Homo sapiens: one gene and its partner. The protein of the gene in region 1 interacts with the protein of each later gene in a pairwise test. Each region holds a gene or a part of one and is shown on either strand. Other genes may lie near its edges.

Region 1 (5,218 bases):
ACCTTCCCTTGTCTTTGTGTATCCACCCAAGATAGCTGACTCTCATCATGCACCCTCTCCACCTCGCATTAACTCTCATTTACATCTTTAGCCCCAACTGGCACATTCTTTCAAGGACTTGATGCCTCCCTGTATGCAGAACCCCTTCTGGTTGCCAAAACCAGCCCTTGACTTTTTCTGGATGGTCATATTCTCTAGAATGTTCCCAGGTCACCATTTTCCTCAGAAACTCACATCCAAATGTTGTAAAAGCATTCCTAATTCCAATTAGATAACATGTTACTGGAAAATATAAACATATTATTGCTTTCCTAAATTACATCTCTAGAAATAAAATATGTATGGAATTTTGTGCTAGTATAAAAATAGATCAGGATATGGTCATTCAAATGTATAGCTTCTATAATATTCATTAAATACTCTCTTCTGATCTATTAGCCCCATCATTCATCTGGTTATTGCAAACTGGTTCATATTATTAGCTAATTTTTCATAATAGCAATGTCAGCTAACATTTACGAGGTGCTTAGTGTATGCCAGGCACTGAAGTGTTTTGTATGTATAAAGTTATTAAATTCTCACAAACCCTATGAAATTTATTGTACTGTTACTTCCAATGTATTGCAATATAGAAGCCAAGGCCTTAAGAGGCTAACTTAACCCACAGAACCAGTCACACAGCCAGCCATATGCTTTATTTCCCTAACTAAATAATGAAGGACTCCAAAACAGCTCATGCCTTACACGTCTCTGCATCCCCAGCTGTGCTTGGCATTCAGGGCCCCAGTAAAGAAACAGCTATTGAAAGAAGAAACAATGTTTTACTCATGTTTGATCCCTGCTCCGCAGTGCTATAATGCAAATGTTTCAAAGATGTTTTAGTCATAAATGAAAGTACTAATGGGCACTGAGATTTAGAAAGCAAATCCACATAAGATAACCTAAAGCTAGTTACAGAAGACTTGACTATCAGCCCCTAACCTGAGTTCCAGGGATCCAAATATGAATAAAATGTTGCCTCTGTCCTTCAAGAACAAGAAAAAATATTATTTTTTCCATACGAGCACAAGGTTTTTTCTCTCATTAATCAACAGTAGAATCAGATATAGAAAGAAACACTAGAGTTTTTTATTAGAAAGTTTATTGCATTAATCTATAAACTCATTTGGTGATATAAATGACAATGTAGGCTAAGAACGATGAAAGTTTATCATCTTTGGAAAATAGAGATATTTCAACACTGAAAGCATTTTTTGTTTGTTTGCCACAACCAAGTAAACCCTAATGTATTTTGATTTTTCTTTTTAAAAATATAGATTGCAATTCAGTCATATCAAAATGAAGCCTAGACCAAATACTGAACTAGCATAAGCAGACCCAGTGTTAGGACATCAATATTAACAGGACTCTAAACGGGCAGTTTGCTGTACATCTTTAGTTAATAAACAAGCAAACATCCATACCACGTAATTCACACTTGCATATGCATGTACACTTTCATGATGTGAAGCCTTTAAGACCAAAATCTCTCTTAAACATTCAGCTTGAATAATAAAGACATGTTGCCTAGAGATAGAAAATTCATTATTTTAAAAAATATAACCTTAAAACTTGATTTTTTATGATTTTATTTTAAGCATAAAGTGGACTACTAATATTGACATCAATTATAAATGATATTGTGGTACCCTTGTTTAACTTTTGCAATATTTACCATTTAAAAATCTCAATAATTGACAGCTACTGTGGCTCTTTGGGGGTCAAGATGACCACACTTTCATAAAGTTGTTTGCATTTCTCAGAACACACAGTCATTATGCTGATGGATTTGGTTCAGTCAGGTTATAACTGTCCTATTATAAAGTTCTATGGTTGGTTTTCCTGAAATTGGTGAATATAAATTCCATAAAGATAATGCTAAACATATTAAACTCTCTGTTAACATTACTACTGTATCATAGGACAGCAATTAATGTCAAACACTGTAAATAATTGTAAAATGTTCCTCACTATCATATAATTAACCTCAAATAACATATTTTCCTTATTAAAGCAAACATGAGTTATCATGTGGGCAAGTTCTGATGTACTTATATATAAATACAAATAACTTATAAATTTTCTGATACATCAACTTCTAAGGAAGGAATAATAGTTTGGCTAACAATACTATATGAATGGCATTTGCTAAGTATCTCTAAACTCCTTTACTGCTTTGACCACCATGGGATACAGAAAGGAAATTAGTTATAGGGTCCAAAATTAACATGGGTTCAAAGTTCATGAGAATAGATTCACTTGGTATGAAGAGTGACATCAATGTCAAATTAAATTCGATACATCTGGAAAAGTTCCTAAAGTTTGTAATTTCAGAGGGAAAATTTTGCCAAGATTCTTTTGTTTTCTCTTTAATTCTCATTCTAACAAAAGTATTCCTTTCTTTACCCAAATTGATATCAAAATATTTAGAAAATTTTGCCTTCTCAACAAGACCTCTCCAAATGTAACACGTAGTTTTACAACATCCAAATTGCTATGTGTGTCCTGATGTTTGAAAAGTCCTGAGTAAGCTCTAATAAGAATTGCCTCAGGTACAAATGTCATTTCAGGACATCAGCTAACTGGAGTGATTTACTTGTCAAAAAGAGCACACAGGAAGGGATGGCAGTGGCCCCTTGGAGTCCACATCTATTGTCCAGATTTTCTTTTTTAAGTTGCTGTTGCCTTTGTACAGCAAGCTTTCAATTTATTAATAGTGGAATAAGAAAAGAAACAGTTGTTTTTTTGACCTAGCTCTAGAGAACAATGGGGAAATTCAAATTTACCATGCAGCTCTGAAGAGATGATCTTTAAAAGGGAGAAAATGTCTTATTTCTTCTCACCAAAAAGGACCCCGATGGCTATTGACTCACACATGTCTCAATTAGATGCCTATCACCTAGAGTTGGGAGCCAGCCAGTGGTTAACTATTGGAATAAATCAATTGTTTCTAAGGCCTGTTCCAGGTCATTCCTTATTTCCTTGAATTGACTTTGGAGTTCCTCAAAATGAACAGCCACCAGTGCAGTGAGTGTTCTAAGTGTGTCTGCTGTATTATCCATCTGACCAAACCACCATCATACGTGCCGATGTGTGACATGAAATAACTGGATATTCCAACTCGATACCTGGCAGGGATAATCACTTATGTGCACTACTAGCAGAAGGGTTGCACATACGTATTTGTTAACTGACTCACTGAGACAGAATGCCATATAGGATTTCATGTCTTTAAAAGATTGAAGACCACTGTTTCTCTTATAAAGTTGTTTCCTTATTCAGTTTTTCAGCCCCTTTGCTTGGTCAAGTAGATCAACAAAAGGGAAACTGGCTTTCCTGCATTGTGTCAGCATTCTCATATTGCAAGATAAGTCTGGTTTGCCTGGAACAGTCCAGATTTAAGTTCATTACAAGATAATTATTAATAATGCCCTCCATTTACTCTCAAGAGTGTCCCAGTTTGGATGGTCAATTCTATGATCACCATAATGAGAGTTTTTTTTAAGATGAGTCTGTGGTACTCATCAGTAACAACGTTTCCTTTCTGCTCCCCTTCTCCCTGGTTTAACCAAGGCTCAGCACCAACAGATCAAAAGGAACTCTATTTTGGAATATTAAAAAGCATTTCTACTTCATTTATAAGCCAATCACTTGTGGTTACTATACTATTTTAGTAACGACCAATTTTAATCAATTCAAATTATATATTTTCATCTTGTCCCTCCAAAAGAAAAAAGAACAACGCATTTTTATCAAGCAAAAGATAAGTGGCAATAATACAAGGAATAACGAACATATAATATTTTTTCATTAACAATCCAAACACTACAAAACATAGAATATGCAATTTAAAAATGGAAATACAAATTAATGAAAAGTTGGGTACATGTCACATTAGCAATGCAAAAGACCAGCTTAAGCATAGTTTCTCTAAATTGACAATTAATAAAAGGAAAGTTCCCTTTCTCAAATATGCACAAAAATATTTCAGTCACTTCTAGGGAAAGATTAATCAAAATGTTCCACTAATTCTATATTACAGCATGTATTACTAATGGTTTACAGAACGTAAGCGTCATCTTGCATTTAAAATTTACAACCTTTATCAATCATTACACACTCATTCCATCCAGTCTGTCAAAAATAAAATTATTTCATTTCTATATTTATGAAATAACTATTGATATGTTATGAATCTCAAGTGGTGAATATGTATGATGGAGCCAGTGATCAGAATAATGTCATAGATCTGAAGTTGGTTGAGAGTCAAACAGAGAAAACCACCTCTGCCTGGCACATTTGTGTATTGACTTCTGCAATACTTCCTACTATTTCTAAAATAATTCTAATTGTATATTTTCTCATTCTAAACAAAATCTAAGATTTTCGTAAATTTTCTGTCCACTTTTAGAGTATATTCAAAGTCTGTCCAGTCATACCGCCTGACAGAATGTTTCCTCCTGCATTCATATTATCCCTACAATTCTGAGTCCAGTTGAATAAAGTTAAGAATCAGGAGTTAACAATATGTTCCTTGTCTTCTACATGTTCAGTGATTCCCACTTTCATGAAGTAAATTTTATGGTAAACTGTACAATCCTAGGTAGAGCTGTATGATGCAAATGAGAGAGAAAATATTCAAATTTTAATTTTTCAAGCAACAATCCCAATGTCCACTGCAACCTGCGTCTCCGAGGGAGTTCTGCAAGTTCATGCTTTCAGCCAACATCTTACAATAAGTCATGCTTCACGGGTATAGTTCTAAAACTAACAGCAATGGGAAATCACATCTCTAACTCCTTCGAATCCACCTGAACAAAAAGCACCTACAGTCCGTGTCAGCCTCAGCTTTCAGCTTTCTGGTTCATGTCCAAAAATTGCCCACCGAATTGACTAACATTCACATGAAAGTGGCAAAATTGAGGATGGAGAAGAACCAAACAGCAGTTCTGGAAAGGGTTCCAGTGGCTACCAAGCGGTCCTTTGGTGTCATTCACTGCTGCTGCTGCTGTTGCTGCTGCTACCACCACTGTCCTCTTGCTTAGGGGAGGATGAACTGTCTCGGACTGGCAGCAGGTCATAATGACAAGGGATGTGACTGTTCTTTGGGAGGTCATATGGATCCTGGGAGAGACGCCCATTATTGCTGAATACTCCTTGGACAACACTCACTGTAGGT
Region 2 (5,254 bases), on another chromosome or scaffold:
AACTATCATCTGAACATCTAAGTTCAGCTGTGGAACAAAAGATTGCCTCTCCCAACAGAATTCTCTCAGATGAGAAAAATTATGCTACAATAGTTGTTGGTTTTCCAGATCTCATGGTAAGCACCCATTTTTTAAATTATCGGATAAATGTTTCTTTCCCTTAGTTTGACCTATAATCTGTAAGCCTGTTTGAGGGGTAATTAAAAACATAATTTCCTGGTAAACATGTTGGATCAAGTCTTCCTTCCAAATCAGTCAGTAGAAAATATGTTATACCTAAATAGTTTCATTACACTTCAAAAATTAACATTGAAAGCGTAATGCAATGATAGAATTTAGTAGGGGGAAATGAGTATTCTCCATATGTGGGGGTTCATGTAATACAGTTTAAATGCTTAACCTTCTGATGGTAATTTTCTGTCATGTCTTCTATAATTTTTTAAAGTTAATTATTTTTCCATCTACACATTCTATATATTTATTTATTAACTTTTATTTTAGGTTCAAGTGTACGTGTGCAGGTTTGTTATATAGGTAAATTGCATGTCACAGGAGTTTGTTGTACAGATGGTTTGGTCATCCAGATAATAAGCATAGTACCTGATAGGTAGTTTTTTGATCCTCACCCTCCTCCCACTCTCCACCCTCAAGTAGGTGTCAGTATCTGTTGTTCCCTTCTTTGTGTCCGTATGTCCTCGATGTTTCGCTCCCACTTGTGAGAACATGTGATATTTGGTTTTTTGTTCCTGTGTAAAGTTAAATTTGTTGGATTGTCATTATTGTAGATTAAAATTTTCAACAGTCATGAAGATAGATTTATTTTCCATTGAGTTTTGCTCTGATTTATCATATCTTTGCAGCATCCAGGTTATAGTATAATGGCTAATTGTCTCAATTGATTTTCCTCTTAGATGGGCCCTTCTGTTATCTCCTATTACCTATAAAGGAGAAGCTATTTGAATTGACTGTAGGTGAAACTGGGCGACATCTTCCTCTGATGGAAATGTGGGGAAATTAATTATAAAAGTTATTTCAGTCCAAGTTGCCATCTAACAACCTTAGATGTAGCTCCATGTGTTCTGACTAAACATTTAATTTTTATAATTTCCTTTGTAGCTTTTAGATGGGATGATAGAATTATTTAAAGATAAAAATATGGGCTCTGCTTGACGGTACTCCAATTTTGTATGCCTCAACATTTTAATATAGTTAATGAATGCTGGGTACTTCAGGATATAAGATTTGAAATCTAAAACTCAATGGATAATGTGGCTTAGGACTCTGATGTATGTTTTCCTAATTATCAAGTTAAAAGCATCTGCTATCATGTAATTCAAAATGAAACGTTATTGAAATACAGTGTTTATAGCAGCCTTGATATGAAAGAGATGTGTTTTATATGCTTTCTACAATGTTTGCTGCTGTAAAAAAAAAATTGGGACTTTTTCTGGAGATAAAACTATTTTAAAAATTGATCTTCTAATTACCTTCTTCTGATTGAAGAAATCAATATAGAAGTATAATGTTATTATAAAAAGTTAGAAAATAAAAGCTAAGTTAAGGCACTGTTTCTATTAACCTTGTAGAAATTCTTATAGCCTGTAACACTAGTGACCTTGTTAAATTAAAAGCTATATCCCTGCTACTTAGTGTGGTACCTACCACATAGGAGGTATTTAATGAGTATTTGTTAAATAGAAGATTAGAGTCAGCTAGGCAGCCTTTAAGATGACAGTAATACTTTTAGGCCACAACAGAATAGGCAGTGTGCTGCTCTAAGCCCTTTCATACATGATAGTTAATTTTTACAACAATTCTATGAGGTTTTACAAATGAAAAAAATAGAAACAGACAGAGCTTATATCCCCTAGGCCACAAAGATTATAAGCAATGGAATTTGAGCTCAAGTGTGACTAGCCAGCCCTCTAACACACATCCTTTTACCACACCACACTGCCTTCTTGCTTTATGTGAACTTCTTTGGATTATGTATGAAACTATTGACAAATGAGTATGCTACCTCTTATTAACTTTTTCATAGAGTTATCAGTGGCATCTAAATTATTACTTGTATAACTTTTAAAATCTAATACCAAATAGCTATAAGAATCTGTAGCAAATATCATCCTCAATGGTGAAACATCAAAAGTATTTCTTTTCTTTTCTCATTAGAAATAAAACAAGGTTGCCCACTGTTACCATTCTATTAAACATGGTAATAGTGTCTTAGACATGATATATAAAGAGAAAATTGATAAATTGTGCTGCATCAAAATTTAAAATTTGAGCTCTGTTAAAAGACACTGTTAAGAGAATGAAAAGACAATCTACAGGCTGGGAAAAAATATTTGCAAACCACATTTCCAACAAAAACTGGTATCTAGAGTCTATAAAGATTCTTAAAACTTAACAGTCAGAAGGCAAATAGCCTAATTTTACAAATGAGCAAATAGTAGGCCAGTGTGAGTTATCAAAGATCAGAGCCCAAGCAAGGTAAGGACATCTATGGTGGGGAGAGGTAACCACTAGTGATGGACGTTAAGCCCAAACAGGATGAAGATGGCATTCCTGTGAAGGGGCAGCCTGGAATGGGATGTAGGAGCCCAAGTAAGGTGAAGTATGTGTCCCTGTGTGAGTGCAGCCCCTATGGGCTGTCAGAACCCAAGCAGGTAGAGTGGAGCATCTGCCCAGGGAGTAAGGTTAGTGGTGGAGATGGGAGATGGGTCACATACAGTGGACTTGAGCAAGAAAGTAAATATATGAAGGGTAACAAAATACATTAAGGATAATGAAAACAAATTTTTAACTGTTGGAGAGGGGAATTACAGATACTGAAAGGAAGAAAACTAGAATGAACCATGTAGTTATTAGATTGGAATTGGATATATTTTTGTGAACTCATAGATTTCAATGTATTTAGGTAGATATAGAAGTAAAATTAAAGGTAAATGTGAAAAAAAAAATGAGCAAAAGACTTGAACAAACACTTAACCAAAGAGGATAGAGGGATGGCAAATAAGTACATGAAAAGTTATTGGACATCATTAGTCATTAGAGAAATGCAAATTAAAACCATGATGAGATACTAGTACCTACCCGTTAGAATGGCTAAAATAAAAAAAACACTGACAATACCAAGTACTGATAAGGACGCAGAGAGCTAATGCAACTCATTATTGCAAGGGCAAACAATAACCAGAACATCTCTGAAGAAGGACCAGACAGAAGTACTCTTCCTATTAAATTTCAAGGATAATTATAAAACTTCAGTAACTAAGACCATGTATTGGCCTGGGAATAGAAAAATGCACCATAGAACAAAATGCAGTGCCCAGAAACAGATACCTGCATATAAACTGTGTTTTATGATACTGTTGCTATGGGCAAAAGTTAGTGGTATTTGGACAATAAACTATACATGTGAGAAAAGGATGAATGCAGATCCCCACTTCATACCATTCACAAAAATTAATTCCTGATAGGCTAAGGACTTCACTATGAAAGATAAAGCCTTAAAACTTTTAGAAAAAGCATAAGAAATTATCTTTATGATCTTAGGAAGGATAAATACATACGTGGTAAAAATTTAAAGTAAAGCAAGGGAAAAATAACACAAAATTCCAGAAGAGTTAAATCTAGGGGAGAGAGAGAATGACTGGGAAGGGGCCCAATCACTTTTGAAGCCCTCCCAGGGCTTTAAAAATGCTAGTTATGTTCTATTATGTATAGATGTTTACTTTATTTTTTAACTAATTCCTATATTTCTTCTGTTTAGTTGTAATTGATTTCAAGGTAAAAAATTTAACTTGTATATTTTACACTTGTCTGAAAATTATGATTATTGACAAAGCAGCTACCTCCTTCCTGTACCACATCCAAATGACTTTATTTATTTTTTGTTTGTTTAAGACAAGATCTCCTCAGTAGCTGGGAATACAGACATGTGCCACGATGTCTGGCTGATTTTTGTATTTTTTATAGGGACGGGGTTTCACTATGTTGCCCAGGCCAGTCTCAAACTCCTGAACTCAAGTGATCCACCAACCTTGGCCTCCCAAAGTACTGGGATTACAGGCATGAGCCACTGTACCCAGCCAATAATTTGATTTTCTTATACCTGTGAAACATTAGTTTCCCACTAGTATCTGCTTAAAGGGCTGCGTTGTTAAGGTTGTGGTGAATGTAGTATATGGTACTTCAGTACTTTAATCTCTTTCTTTTTTTCAGTCACCCAGTGAAGTTTATTCTTGGAAGAGACCATCATCTTTGCATAAACGAAGTGGCACTGATACATCATTCTATAGAGGAAAGAAGAAAAGGGGGACTCCAAAACAAAGCAATTGTGTGACTCTTTTAGATACGAATCAGGTAGTGAGGATTTTACCCCCAGGAGAAGTCCCTCTAAAAGATATCTACCCAAAAGGTAAGAAGGAACTCACCAATTCCTAATTTACAAAGGTGGTTTAAAGTAGCTTCCTTTTGGTAGAGGATATTTAATTTATCTTTATCATTTCATACTTATAAAAATTGATCATTCCGACAAGTTTAGAAGTAACTAAAAAGACCTCTCCGTATTCAGAAAGTTCTTACTCATTTTCACAGTGTGTGGTTGTGGCCACTGCTGTTAGAGCTCATCTTCATTTATATTATAATATATGCAGTAACTTTACCTAAAAGATGTTTTCACAGAGCCTTTTAAAAAGTCTTAGTATATTAGGCATAGAAACTGAGGCCTGCCTTTTGTCTTAAACTCCTAAGACTGAAAGTCAGGGGCTTATCGTGCAGACTGATTCACTTAACAGCACTCTGAAAGTCAACTTATATTTATTACTGCATAAAATATCCAATTCCTGGGATGATCTCCTTTCCTTGTATAAATTCACTTACTCCTTAAAACCCCATCCTATTGTTAGCATGCTCTCTAATTTATACATGAAGATATTCTGACACAGAACTAAAATAACTGGCCCAGGATCACCCCACCAGTGGACAACAGTGCCCAGATTTGCACCACAATCTTCTAATCCCAAGTTTAGATCTATTCTTATTGAACCACACTGGCATTCATCATAACAGATAACTATGAAAAAGTTTGATCATTGATTAATTGACTTTTTTTTTTTATGTCACAGTGGTAGTGATATATTATCTTGTGTCTATATGCATTGTATTAGTGTGGACTTCACAAATATAATGCTAAATGTATTATAATAATCTGTAACAGGGTTTGAAAAGTTCTGATTATATGATAACA

The links.
Region 2: the proteins of MEGF10 (region 1) and VWA8 interact in a two-hybrid assay, tested with the Homo sapiens proteins (one large-scale study listed by IntAct).

The regions. Positions count from the first base shown.
Region 1 is NC_000005.10:127,457,129-127,462,346, reverse strand, and holds the end of MEGF10 (multiple epidermal growth factor-like domains protein 10 isoform a precursor), read right to left. Parts: coding exon 5,029-5,218; 3' UTR 1,125-5,028; downstream 1-1,124. UniProt on the Homo sapiens protein: Membrane receptor involved in phagocytosis by macrophages and astrocytes of apoptotic cells. Receptor for C1q, an eat-me signal, that binds phosphatidylserine expressed on the surface of apoptotic cells. Cooperates with ABCA1 within the process of engulfment.
Region 2 is NC_000013.11:41,684,216-41,689,469, reverse strand, and holds part of VWA8 (von Willebrand factor A domain-containing protein 8 isoform a precursor), read left to right. Parts: coding exon 1-116; intron 117-4,227; coding exon 4,228-4,423; intron 4,424-5,254. UniProt on the Homo sapiens protein: Exhibits ATPase activity in vitro.